4 linked regions of the Homo sapiens genome follow. The protein of the gene in region 4 purifies or fractionates together with the protein of the main gene of each other region. This does not show direct contact. Each region holds a gene or a part of one and is shown on either strand. Other genes may lie near its edges.

What was found. Proteins that work in one complex are often made in the same cells at the same time.
Region 1: the proteins of ZNF512 (region 4) and DDX24 purify together in Homo sapiens (affinity purification with mass spectrometry; 2 studies listed by BioGRID and IntAct, with this or other methods). This does not show direct contact.
Region 2: the proteins of ZNF512 (region 4) and RMP64 purify together in Homo sapiens (affinity purification with mass spectrometry; 2 studies listed by BioGRID and IntAct, with this or other methods). This does not show direct contact.
Region 3: the proteins of ZNF512 (region 4) and DDX31 purify together in Homo sapiens (affinity purification with mass spectrometry; 2 studies listed by BioGRID and IntAct, with this or other methods). This does not show direct contact.

What each region holds. Positions count from the first base shown.
Region 1 is NC_000014.9:94,074,703-94,078,202, reverse strand, and holds part of DDX24 (ATP-dependent RNA helicase DDX24), read left to right. Parts: intron 1-3,500. UniProt on the Homo sapiens protein: ATP-dependent RNA helicase that plays a role in various aspects of RNA metabolism including pre-mRNA splicing and is thereby involved in different biological processes such as cell cycle regulation or innate immunity.
Region 2 is NC_000003.12:113,006,172-113,009,671, reverse strand, and holds part of RMP64 (nucleolus and neural progenitor protein), read left to right. Parts: intron 1-1,241; coding exon 1,242-1,501; intron 1,502-3,500. UniProt on the Homo sapiens protein: May play a role in cortex development as part of the Notch signaling pathway. Downstream of Notch may repress the expression of proneural genes and inhibit neuronal differentiation thereby maintaining neural progenitors.
Region 3 is NC_000009.12:132,594,741-132,596,983, reverse strand, and holds part of DDX31 (ATP-dependent DNA helicase DDX31), read left to right. Parts: intron 1-561; coding exon of another isoform or gene 562-616; exon of another isoform or gene 617-1,841; intron 1,842-1,871; coding exon 1,872-2,118; 3' UTR 2,119-2,243. UniProt on the Homo sapiens protein: May have DNA helicase activity and RNA helicase activity. Probably have ssDNA and RNA dependent ATPase activity. Plays a role in ribosome biogenesis and TP53/p53 regulation through its interaction with NPM1.
Region 4 is NC_000002.12:27,593,042-27,596,541, forward strand, and holds part of ZNF512 (zinc finger protein 512), read left to right. Parts: intron 1-3,500. UniProt on the Homo sapiens protein: May be involved in transcriptional regulation.

The sequences.
Region 1 (3,500 bases), on a different chromosome or scaffold from region 4:
CTTACATATAACCTATATAGGCACATCCTCCTGTATATTTTAAATCATCTCTCGATTACTTATAATATCTCATACAACATAGGTCTTATGTAAATTGTTACACCGTATTGTTTAGGGAATAATGACAAGAAAAGTCTGTACAGTGTTTAGTACAGATACAGTTTTTTTTTTTTTACCCCCCCGAATATTGTCGATCCACAGATGCAGAACCCACGGTTACAGAAGGGTGACTGTATAATGTGAAACACATAAGTAATTTAAAATTTACTAGGAGTCACATTTTTTAAAAGTTAAAAACTAGTGAGATATTTTATGTTCTTTTTTTTTTTTTTACTAAATTTTCAAAATCTGGTGTGTTTTAAACTTGCAGCACATGTCATTTTAGAGTAACTACATTTTAAGTGTTCAGTAGACACGTGCTTTGGGTTTCTGGAACAGTGGTCAGGAAACTCAGGATGATGTTCTGTGGCAGTCATATAGATGGAAGAGTGAGGAACTACAGGAAAGGGGAATGGAGATAATAACTTAGAACATTTACTGAGCATTTAAGATGTGTCATGCACTGTGTTAAGTGCTTTATGTTGATGAAATCGGTTGTCACAACCACCCTGGGGTAAGTACCATTATTCCCATGTTACAGATGAGAAAACTCAGCCTCACAGAGCATAGACAGCTTCCCTAAAATTACACAACTGAAATGGTAGTGTATGGATTCCAGGCTAGTTCTGTGTGTTGTTAAGCATTCTGCTACACTGCTTTGGTATGTGCAGCAGAGTCCTGGAAGTAAGTCCGTGGAAGGCAGAAACAAGGTTTATATGAGCCGTTGTGGCCAGAGATTGACATTTGGATGTATACCACAGTTCCTGTCAGGTTGTGAATCTACAAGTCCAGAATTCAAAACGACTTGGATAAGTCATCCATCTGGGGCTGTGAACAGACCACTGCCCATGCAATAATAAATAGACCCTTAATGTGGGGATTAGGGGCATTGGTCCCCTGTGCAGTCGAAAATCCATGTATAATTTTGAACTCCCCCCAAACTTAAACGCTAATAGCCTATTATTGGCTGGATGCCTTACAGATAACATAAGCAGTCTATTAGCACATATTTTGTATTATATACTTTATTCTTACAGTAACATAAGCTAGAGAAAAAATGTTATTAAGAAAATTGTAAGGAACAGAAAATATATTTACTATTCATTAAATGGAAGTGGATCATCATAAATGTGTTCATCTTCATCTTGACTTTCAGTAGGCTGAGTAGAAAGAGGAGGGGTTGGTCTTGCTGTCTCAGGGTGGCTGAGGTGGAAGAAATTCTGTGTATAAGTGGACCCCTACCTTCAAATTTGTGTTAAAGGGTCAACTGTATATCCATTACCCCCAAAAAGATACCCTGGGTTTTTTTTGTTGTCCCTCCCTCCCTCCCTCAGTTCTTGTTCCTCCTCAGGCAACCACTGATAGGCTTTCTATCACTATAGATTAATTTGCATTTTCTTGCTTTCTTTTTTTTTTTTTTTTTGAGACGGAGTCTCGCTCTGTCACCCAGGCTGGAGTGCAGTGGCCCAATCTCGGCTCACTGCAACCTCCGCCTCCTGGGTTCAAGTGATTCTCCTGCCTCAGCTTCCCGAATAGCTGGGATTACAGGCACTTGCCACCACATCTGGCTAATTTTTGTATTTTTAGCAGAGACGGGGTTTCACTATGTTGGTCAGGCTGGTCGCAAACTCCTGCCCTCATGACCTGCCTGCTTCGGCCTCCCAAAGTGCTGGGATTACAGGTGTGAGCCACTGTCCCCGGCCTAATTTGCGTTTTCTAGAATTTTATATAATGAAATCATATAATATGTACTGGAGGGGGTGGTATCTGAGTCTTTGACTCAGCATAATTTGAGATTACGCCATGTTATTACAATTACTAGCAGTTCATTCCTTTTTAGTGATGAATAGTATTCCAATGTGTGGGTAGAGCAGTTTGTTCATCTATTGATGGACATTTGTGCTTTTTCTTGTTTTTGGCTATTACAAATATAGTTATTGTAAATACTATTGTACCAGTCTTTGTATGGATATGTGCTTTAATTTCTATTGGATAAATACCTAGGTGTGGAATGGCTAGGTCTTGTGGTAAATGTAACTTTTAAAGAGTTTTCCAAAGTGATTATACCATTTTACGTTGTCACTAGGTGGTATGAGTTCAAGTTGGTCCATATTCTTGTCAATAACTAGGTATGCTCAGTCTTTAATTTTATTTTAGACTTTTAAAATTTTACTATTATTTCCTTGTCATTTGAATTTGCATTTCCCTAGTGACTAGCAATGTAGAGCATTTTAGCATATGCTTATTTGTCTGTTTGATTATTTTGCCCATTTTTAAAATAGGGATGTTCTGTTGTAGAGTTTTGGGAGTTCATTGTGTATTCTAGATACATGTCCTTTATCAGATGTGAGATTTGCAAATTTTTCTCCCAGTTTGTGGCTTATCTTTTCGTTCTCTTAACAGTGTTTTTCAAAGAGCAGAAAGTCTTTATTTTGATGAAATCCAAATTAGCCTTGTCTTTTATGAATTTATGCTTTTGGTGCCGTTGGTGTTTTATCTAAGAACCTTTTGCCTAATTCAAGATCACAAAGATTTCTCCTGTGTTTTGTTCTAGAAGTGTTAATAGTCTTAGGTTTTATGTTTTGGTCTCTGATCCTTATTGAGTTAACTTTTATTTAGAGTGAGAAGTATGGATCAAAGTTTGTGGGTTTTTCTGCATATGGCTAATTATTTCAGCACCATTTGTAGAAAAACTATTCTTTCTCCACTGAGTTGACTTTGCATCTTTGTTGAAAGTCTGTGACCATATAGGTGTGGGTCTTTCTCTGGAGTCTTTTTGTTTTCCATTGATCTGTTTGTCTAGTCTTTATGTCAGTTTCTTATTCTCTTGGTTATAATAGCTTTATAATAAGTCTTAAAATCAGGTAGTATGAGTCCTCTAACTTTGTTCTTTTTAAAAGTTATTTTGACTGTTGTAGGCCTTTGCCCTTCCATATGGATTTTAGAATCCGTTATATCAGTTTCTACAAAAAAAGTAAGCTGATATCTGGATTGGGATTCTGTTGATTACAGAGCAAATTGAGGATAGATGACGTCTTAACAATATTTAATTTTCCAGTCTATGAATATGGTATCTCTCCATTTCTTTAGATCTTTAACTTTTCTTAGCAATGTTTTAAAATTTTCAGTATATAGATTTTTCACATCTTATGTTAGATTTATCCTTAAGCATTTTATATTTTTGATTCTATTGTAAATGGTAATTTAAAATTTTTTATTTCCGATTGTTTGTCGCCAATAAGTAGAAATATGATGGATTTTTGTATATTGATCTTGTGTCCTGCAACTTAGTTCCACCAAGTAGTTTTCTGAGGATTCCATGGTATTTTCTGCAAAGATGATCATTATCCAGTCTTGGATGCCTTTTGTTTTTCTTGTTGTATTGCAGTGGCTAACACCTT
Region 2 (3,500 bases), on a different chromosome or scaffold from region 4:
CCAGGCCACATAGTGAATAAATGGTAGAGCTGCGATTTGAATGCAGGCAGTATGGTTTCATAGTCTTTCTTCTTTACTATTCACCAGTCCCCAGAACAGTTTTTCAACTGTATCTCAAGAACTATGGTGCTTTGTGAACCTTGAAACTTCTGCAGCCTGTGCACCTGTTTGTAGGTGAGCTGGCTTTGAAGTTGGTGGGTCAGCATCCCTCTTACTCAAAACTAACTGCTACTATATTTTTAGCAAATAGCACTAACTTGCTTAGCTTTAAAGCAAACTACTTCTATTGATCACCAAACATAAACTATTGACCTGGGTCATTACTTTTATATTTTCTACTTTTTTTTAAAGTTCCTTTTGAGTGTAAGAAATTTGGAAGAAGGTAAGCTTTGAATGAAAGAGCAGATCATCTCGTAGGCAGCATATTTTCATAAAGAAATAGTAAACGTTAGTAAAATCCAAATGTGACTTGATATAGAAAGAAGGGGTTGAAGAAGTAAAGGTGCCTTGTCAGAAGATGGTTGAAGTAGAATTGGAAGTGTTGCTCAATTGAGCATTTTTAATAGATATTCAGCAGGCATTAACTGATTAATGGGCTTATTCTGCTGGGCACTCTGCAGGGCCCCATATCTTCCCTGTTTTCAGAAACATTTCTAAATTGAGGAGGTTTGCCCAGGATACGGAAATAAGTGAAAAACAAGTCGTGATAATCTGGTGGTGTAGCGAAGAGGGGCCTTTCAGTGATCCCCCAACCCTCTGCAATTAGGCTTTGACCAGTATTTAATCATGTGGGGTTTTTTTATTGTGTATGTGAGATATGTGTGTTAGGATATTTATGTTAACTTTCCTATGTCAATCTAATTCAGCTGCAGATGGGACCTGTCCTGGTACAGAGGGGGAACAAAACAACTTGTATTTGGAGCAGTGGAGAAAAATTCAGTTTTTAAAGACATAAGGAAAGCTTAGTGAGCAAAAAAATTTCCTTACAGACTGATTTTTTTTTTTTAATTTTTAGGTTTTGTGGGTACGTAGCAGGTATATATATTTATGGGGTACGTATTTTGTTATAAGCATATAGTGCATAATAACCACAGGGTAAATGGGGTATCCATCACTTCAAGCATTTAGGGACTGATAATTCTAATTTTTAAATTTTGATTGTGAGCTAGCTTTCCTTGTTGTCATATAATTACAAGTCAGTAACATGTCCAATATATTTTTCTCATCTTTCCACGTTTCAGGAGACCAGTTTTGATTTTAAATGTTCTCAATCCAGACTAAAGACAACCAAGTATTCTTCTCAGAAAGTGATAGGAACTCCTCATGCCAAAAGTTTTGTGCAAAGATTCCGAGAGGCTGAGTCCTTCACACAACTTTCTGAAGAAATCCAGATGGCAGTTGTATGGTGCAGGAGCAAAAAACTCAAGGCTCAGGCCATTTTTCTGGGTAACAAACTTCTTAAAAGCAACCGGCTTAAACATCTGGAAGCTCAAGGTACTAGGTAGGTATATTGCAAAAATTATGTTACTTTACTTTTTCTGTTGTTGTTATGAGTAAAAGTATTCAGGTCACTTTTCTTTAAAATGTGATGTCCAGCAGCCGCAGCGGGGCTAAATTGGGATGTACTCAAACTGCAATTGCATTTGCTGCTTTTATTGTAAGAGCAAAGCTGTATCATTGGAGGAAGAAGATAAACAAGTTAATTGGACTTCAGTCCCCGTTATGCTCTTCATCATTTCCATCAGCTCATTCAGGAACCATTAAGAGTGTCTAGTGTGCTGAGCCTGAGGATACAACTGCATAAAGACGTGACTTGGTCTTCAGGGAGCTCAGGGTCTTCTGGGAAAGGCAGCCCTTCTGCAGACAGCTTCAGTGCAGTGCAGTGGGATAAGGGCATGAGAGCAGAAGCAGAAGGTGCCTGCCTTCCATGAGGCCCACACAAGACTGCTGGGGTGTTGTACTGTTGCTACTTGCTACTGTTTGTAGCAGCTGGACTCTATCTATATTTCTTTTCTGTGATTTTTATATTCACAACTGTTTAAGGGTGCTTATCTTTGCTTGTGAACCAGTATTGCATGAAGTATTACATGAATTTAGACATTAGACACTTCAGGGCTTAACGGTAATGATTTCAGACACAAATATGTATTAAGAGCCTATTCCACCTTCACAGAGGCAATTATTCTGACCTGTTTTTTATTGTATTCTTTAACAAATATCCTGTGCATGCCCCATAATTTCTTATCCATAGTTTAGAGCTATTCAGGGATTTAAAGTTCATTCCTGGGGATGAACCACGTATTGAAAATTTGTTAAATTTTCTTTTAAAATTTGCATAAAATATATTCCTGTTTTAGAAAAAAAAAAGTATACAGTGAGGGTTTTGTAACACATTTTGATTAAAAGCTATGGGGAAAGTGGTTGAATATTCCTGAGGGATAAAGTGCTTGAGGGGTTTTTACATTGAGATGGCTCCTCTAAAGGTCTGTAATAATCTAAAAGTGATGTATCCTATGGCTGGAGACGCAGCCTGAGATGGAGAGAAGCATTCTGTTTAAAATTGGGTTTAAAATCAAGGGTAGATGAGGCAGAGGTAACAACTAAAAGTTAATGAGAAGGGTAGCAAACTGGTGTTTATTGGTTAAACCATTACTCAGTACTCCCCCAGATATAGTGCTCCTTCATAGATTGCCCTGTTTTGCTGTTTCATTAATATATTTGTAGTAAACTTTATAATTTATTTAATGTCCATAATAACATTGTGAGGTAGACAGTATTATTCCCATTTCATAGATGGGTAAATGGAGGATTTTGCTCAAGGGGTTAGATGTGGAACTCAGTTCAGGCCCTCTGTTTTCCTTTCAACTCTGAAGTACACCCACCTTCTCCCCACTTAAAAGCCACTGCTTATAGTGAGATAAGAAAATGGTATGGAAGCAAAGATCATGATTTACTTTATTATAATGGGCTTCCTCAAAGTTTTATATCCATGCCCGTCTTTTAAAATCTATCACAAACAGTGAAACAATTCAGCAAGGCACTGATGAACCTTGTGGCAGTGTACCGTGTGTGGAAGCAAAACACCTAAAATGATCAGCTGTTTGATTTCTGAATTTCCAAACTTGAAGATGACATATGAATCATAATTAGGGTAGCTTAAGGCTGTCTGTGTATCTGGGCCAGAAGCCCTGTCTTCATATTGTTTTATAAACCCCTCTTAGCCTTTATTCCTTTTTCCTTGTTCATTTCCTGCCACAGCATGAAGCTGATTATCCAGATTCGGATTAATACGTACTGGCAGATTTTTTCATTTGTGATGTTTCCTCATGTCCACTCATTACATTATGAACAGATTAGCAGTTATGAGGGAAAAGCTCTGACACTAAAGTATAGGGTATCTCGCCATTCAGCTAATTGCTAGGCGGCTGTACTTTTGAGAGTTTGAAAGCAAAATGGGGACACATTCGTCTACACTTCAATCAGAGGGCATTTGTGCTCTC
Region 3 (2,243 bases), on a different chromosome or scaffold from region 4:
ATTCTCAGTGAGGAAACTGAGGCACAGAGCCTGAGTCACTCATTCTGTGTCCTCAGCTGATGAGTGATAGTCAAGTTCCAACCCTGGCTTCTCCCTCCTCCACCCTGCAGCTCTGCTGTCTCCCCTCACCACTCCCTACTCACTTGCCTGGCTCCTGCCCCACTGTCCTGCTGAAGTAGTCCTTAGGAGACCACAGAGGACCCCTCCCATCACATCTCACCATTTTCCACCCTTGGTCCAGCTGAGTCCTGCCCCCGCTGACCCGGCAAATCGTTCTCTGCCCTGAGTTTGCCTCTTGGCTTCTCCACTTACCAGCCATGTGGTCCTGGGGCAGGTTACCCTCCTTGAGTCTTTGTGTCCTTGTCTGTAAATGAGGATAATAACCGTACCCACCTTGTTGAGCGAGGATTGTAAGAGATTGTGTATGTGAATCATTTCCCACAGACCCCAGGAAGTCTTCCCTGTATACTTCTAATCTTCTCACTACATCCTGCCCTGATGTGCTCACCCCATAAACTCCTGGCCTTTAAATGTTATCTGTTCATTGTCCCCTTGTTTCAGATCTTCTTTTCCTGCAGAGGTTGGCTTGAATGTGTCTTCCTGTATGTTGCAATAGAAAACACCATTGTATGACTGTCACCCTGTCCTCTGGAGTGTGATTAGAAACAGGTATTATTGCTTTAGCTCGTTTATAATGGGTTTCTACAAGCTTTCACAGTCAGGTTAACAACACACTATTAGTCTTATTTCTAATTCTTGGGTTTTAAAGGCATTGTTACATTTATTTTGACCACAGTTTCAGTTCAGTTTATTCTCTGATTACAGCAAAGAAAATGCTCTAAATGTAGTAGCAGAACGTAACATATGTCTTTGTGAGAACTCCATGACACTATAGTATCCTAAGACATTGCCGTTTTGGTATTGAAGGAGTTGCCAGCAAGGAAGTGTGGATTTATTGGTAATTGTTTTATTGTTGTTGCTTTGGTTAAAATCCTGTCTTAAGAAACATTGTTTTACTCTTCAGTTTTCATAATCATTCTTCTTATGTATGATTGAACATCTACAAATTTCCTCCTCTGATCTTCCGATCAAATGGTAAAATTGCCATCTTTTCAGAACAGTTATCAGGATTCGACATCGGAAATTGATTTTCAACCTTTGGCATTTTCTGAGTGACTTAGGGTAGGGAGAGACCTCCCTCTAACACCCGGGTTTGTGTGGGCTGCAGAAAGCTGCTGGTCTAATCCTAGATGCAGACATTGACCAGGCTGTGCCCTGGGTTTGGGTTTTGTAGGGTCAGAAATATGTTTAAGAGTTTTTTCCGTTCATAAAGAGCTATCTGGCTGTCATCCCAGCCTTCACTGTGGAACCCTGGAGGGCTGCGTGGAACTTGCTGGACTCTGCTCCCGCAGGGCTGAGTCCTGAAGCCCTCAGGAGCCCATGAGGAGGCCAGTTGCTTTAAGCTGCTTAGGGGTTACTGGGAAGCTGCCGTGAGCTTTCACTGCTTCATGTTGTTGAGTGTGACGGTGGGTTTTTCCCTGTCCTTTGGCAAACCGCTGTATCATACACCTCATTTGCCATCAGAGCATGAGGGTGTATAGTTCTTTTTTTCCCCATGAAAACAACACAGAACAAAGCCTCACTTTTAAAAATGCCATGATATTTTGCCGCTGTTATGAAAATCTGTCAGCGCCGTATCTAATCTTCTGGTGCATCGAATATCAAAACAAGTACTATTGAAGGGATTGTACTTCTGTTAATACAAAAATGTCAGCTTCACAGTCTCAGAACCAGCTGCTATCAGCCTCTTTCCAAATGGGAAAGAAAAATAATAAAGTTTCTTTTCCCTCTCTGCTGTTACTGTTCTTCAGGCCTGACCTTCATAAGAAGACCCAGAGTAAACACAGCCTCGCTGAAATCCTACGTTCGGAATACTCAAGCGGCATGGAGGCCGACATCGCCAAGGTCAAAAAGCAAAACGCACCTGGAGAGCCTGGTGGCCGGCCCCTGCAGCACAGTCTGCAGCCGACACCCTGCTTTGGCCGTGGGAAAACATTAAAATGGAGAAAAACCCAAAAAGGTGTACAGCGGGACAGCAAGACTTCCCAGAAAGTTTAAAATCTCTCTGGGTCTTCGAGTGGAACCTGGAAGCCCCGGGTGGCAGTGGATTGATGTCCAGTTCTTGTCAGAGGAGGCTTGTGAAAAATAACTGCGCCTTTGCCTGAATACCACGTCCCCAAGAA
Region 4 (3,500 bases):
CCCTTCCTGGCTGAATAGTTTCGTTAAGATGTGTCTTGGTTGGGTACCGTGGCTCATGCCTGTAATCCCAGCAGTTTGGGAGGCTGAGGTAGGAAGATTGCTTGAGCCCAGGAGTTTGATACCAGCCTGGACAACAAAGTGAGACCCTGTCTCTACACACACACACACACACACACACACACACACACACACACACACACACACAAAAGAATGAGCTGGGTACCGTGGCACACACTTGTGGTCTCAGCTACTCAGGAGGCTGAGGTGGGAGGATTGTTTAAGCCTGGGAGGTGGAGGCTGTGCTTGAGCCACTACACTCCAGCCTGAGTGACAGAGTGAGACCTTGTCTCAAAAAAAAAAAAAAAAAAAGTGCTTTGGACCAGCCTGGGCAACATAGCAAGACCCTGTCTCTATGAAAAAACACAAAAATTTAGTGGGTATGATGGTGTGCACCTGTGGTTCCAGCTACTCGGGTATGGTGAGGTGAGAGGATCACTTGAGCCAGAGAGGTCCAAGCTGCAGTGAGCCATGTGCCACTGCACTCTGGCCTGGAGAACAGAACAAGACTGTGTTTCAAAACAAAACAAAAAGATGTATCTTGGTATGTTTTTCTTTGAGTTATCCTATTTGGTGTTTGTTGAGCTCCTTGAATCTGTAAATTTATATCTGACCAAACGTGGGGGATTTTCCACCTTTTTTTTTTCAAATGTATTTTTCTGCCTTAGTATCTTTCTTTCTTTCTTTTTTTTTTTTTCCATTTAACCCTGAGTTGACACAGCACATGTTTCAGAGAGCACAGGGTTGGGGGTAAGGTTATAGATCAACAGCATCCCAAGGCAGAAGAATTTTTCTTAGTACAGAACAAAATGGAGTCTCCTATGTCTACTTCTTTCTACACAGACACAGTAACAATCTGATCTCTCTTTCTTTTCTCCACATTTCCCCCTTTTCTTTTCGACAAAACCGCCATCATCATCATGGCCCATTCTCAATGGTCACTGTCTCTTCGGAGCTGTTGGGTACACCTGCAGAAAGGCTGTCACTTCACACTTGGAAGATTGCACAGCGGCCAGTCAGAGGTGCTCCTCACTTCCCAGACAGGGTGGCGGCCGGGCAGAGGCGCTCCTCACATCCCAGATGGGGCGGCCAGGCAGAGGCACTCCTCACCTCCCGGACAGGGCGGCCGGGCAGAGGCGCTCCTCACATCCCAGACGGGGTGGTGGCCGGGCAGAGGCACTCCTCAGTTCGCAGACGGGGTGGCAGCCGGGCAGAGGCGCTCCTCACCTCCTAAACGGGGTGGCGGCCGGGCGGAGGCGCTCCTCACCTCCCAGAAGGGGTGGCGGCCGGGCAGAGACGCTCCTCACCTCCCAGACGGGGTGGCGGCTGGGCAGAGACGCTCCTCACCTCCCAGACGGGGTGGCGGCCGGGCAGAGGTGCTCCTCACCTCCCAGACAGGGCGGCCGGGCAGAGGCGCTCCTCACTTCCCAGACAGGGCGGCCGGGCAGAGGCGCTGGTCACATCCCAGATGATGGGCGGCCAGGCAGAGACGCTCCTCACTTCCTAGACGGGGTGGCGGCCGGGCAGAGGCGCTCCTCACTTCCCAGACGGGGCGGCCGGGCAGAGGGTCTCCTCCCATCCCAGATGATGGGCAGCCAGGCAGAGACGCTCCTCACTTCCTAGATGGGGTGGCGGCCGGGCAGAGGCTGTAGTCTTAGCACTTTGGGAGGCCAAGGCAGGCGGCTGGGAGGTGGAGGTTGTAGCGAGCCGAGATCACGCCACTGCACTCCAGCCTGGGCAACATTGAGCATTGAGTGAGCAAGACTCCGTCTGCAATCCCAGCACCTCGGGAGGCGGAGGCGAGCAGATCACTCGAGGTCAGGAGCTGGAGACCAGCCTGGTCAACACGGCGAAACCCCGTCTCCACCAAAAATACAAAAACCAGTCAGGCGTGGCGGCGCGTGCCTGCAATCCCAGGCATTGGGCAGGCCCAGGCAGGAGAATCAGGGGAGCCCGAGGTAGGGAGGTTGTAGCTAGGTGAGATCACGGCAGTATGGTCCAGCCTTGGCAACAGAGGGAGACCGAAGAAGGGAGAGGGAGGAGAGCGGGGAGAGGGAGAGCGAGAGCTGCATTAGTATCTTTCGCCTCTCCCTCTGGGATTACAACTACACTTAAGTTAAAACGTTTGGTATTAGGGTTTTGTTGAATGTTTTTCAATCTTTTTTTCTCTTTGTTCTTCAGACTGGTTTTTTTTCTTTTCTTTTCTTTTTTTTTTTTTTTGAGATGGAGTCTCGCACTGTCGCCCAGGCTGGAGTGCAGTGGTGCGATCTCTGCTCACTGCAGCGGCGCGATCTCTGCTCATTGCAGCCTCCGCCTCCCAGGTTCAAGCGATTCTCCTGCCTCAGCCTGCCGAGTAGCTGAGATTACAGGCACCCACCACCAGGCCTGGCTAATTCTTTTGTATTTTTAGTAGAGACGGGGTTTCACTATGCTGATCAGGCTGGTCTCGAACTCCTGACCTTGTGATCCGCCTGCCTCGGCCTCCCAAAGTGCTGGATTACAGGCGTGAGCCACTGTGCCCGGTGGAGACTGGGTCATTTCTATTGAACGGTCTTCAAGTTCACAGACTCTTTCCTCTGTCATCTCCATTCTATTACTGAACCTATCTGATGAGTTTTTATTTCAGATGTTGTATTTTTCAGTTCTAAGATTTCATTTGGTTCTTTTTTATGGTTTCTTTTTCTGCTGATGATTCCCACCTTTTCCTTCATTTCTTGTGTGTTTTCTTTATAAGAAAGTATTTCTTTTTTGTTGACAGTATTTGATAGTCCCAAAATCTGGATCACCTTGTGGCTGGCATGTTTTGGTCATTTGTTCCTTTGAAAATTGCTCACATTTTCCTGGTTCTTTATGTGTTGCATAATTTTGGAATTTATCCTCATCATTGTGAATACTTTTTGTGTAGATTTTGGGTCCTATTATAATTCTTCTGGGGAATGTTGCCGTTTCTGTTTTAGCAGGCCACCCTGCTTCAGGTTCAGGCCAAAACTTCTGTCTTGCTTTTGGAGGCATTTGTTAAAATCTCGGTTCTGTTCTTTATGTCTTTGCTATGTTGATTTGAGCTGTCCCAAACATGAATAGCTTAGGGGCTGGTCTGAGACTTCTGCAGGTGTTTCCAATCTTATTTCAGTTCTCCAAGCTTTTGCTGCTTTGGTTTGGGTCACATTAGAGTTCAAATCTCATTTTGGTTTTCAAAGTCTTTGCTAGGCTGGTACGTATGGGTATATGCCACACATTCATGGCTAAGGTTAAGTTGTGACTTATTTGGATTCATACATTGAATTAAGAGATTCTTTTTTTTGCCTGTTTTCTCTCTAGCATTCCTCCCACCCCCAGTCCCCCAACTCTGGTCCACAGGGACCTTTTTTCCTGATTTACCTGGTAAGAAAGAAGGGAGTTTCTAGAATTAAAGCTGCCTATGCTGCTCTGCAAGTGGGGTTCAT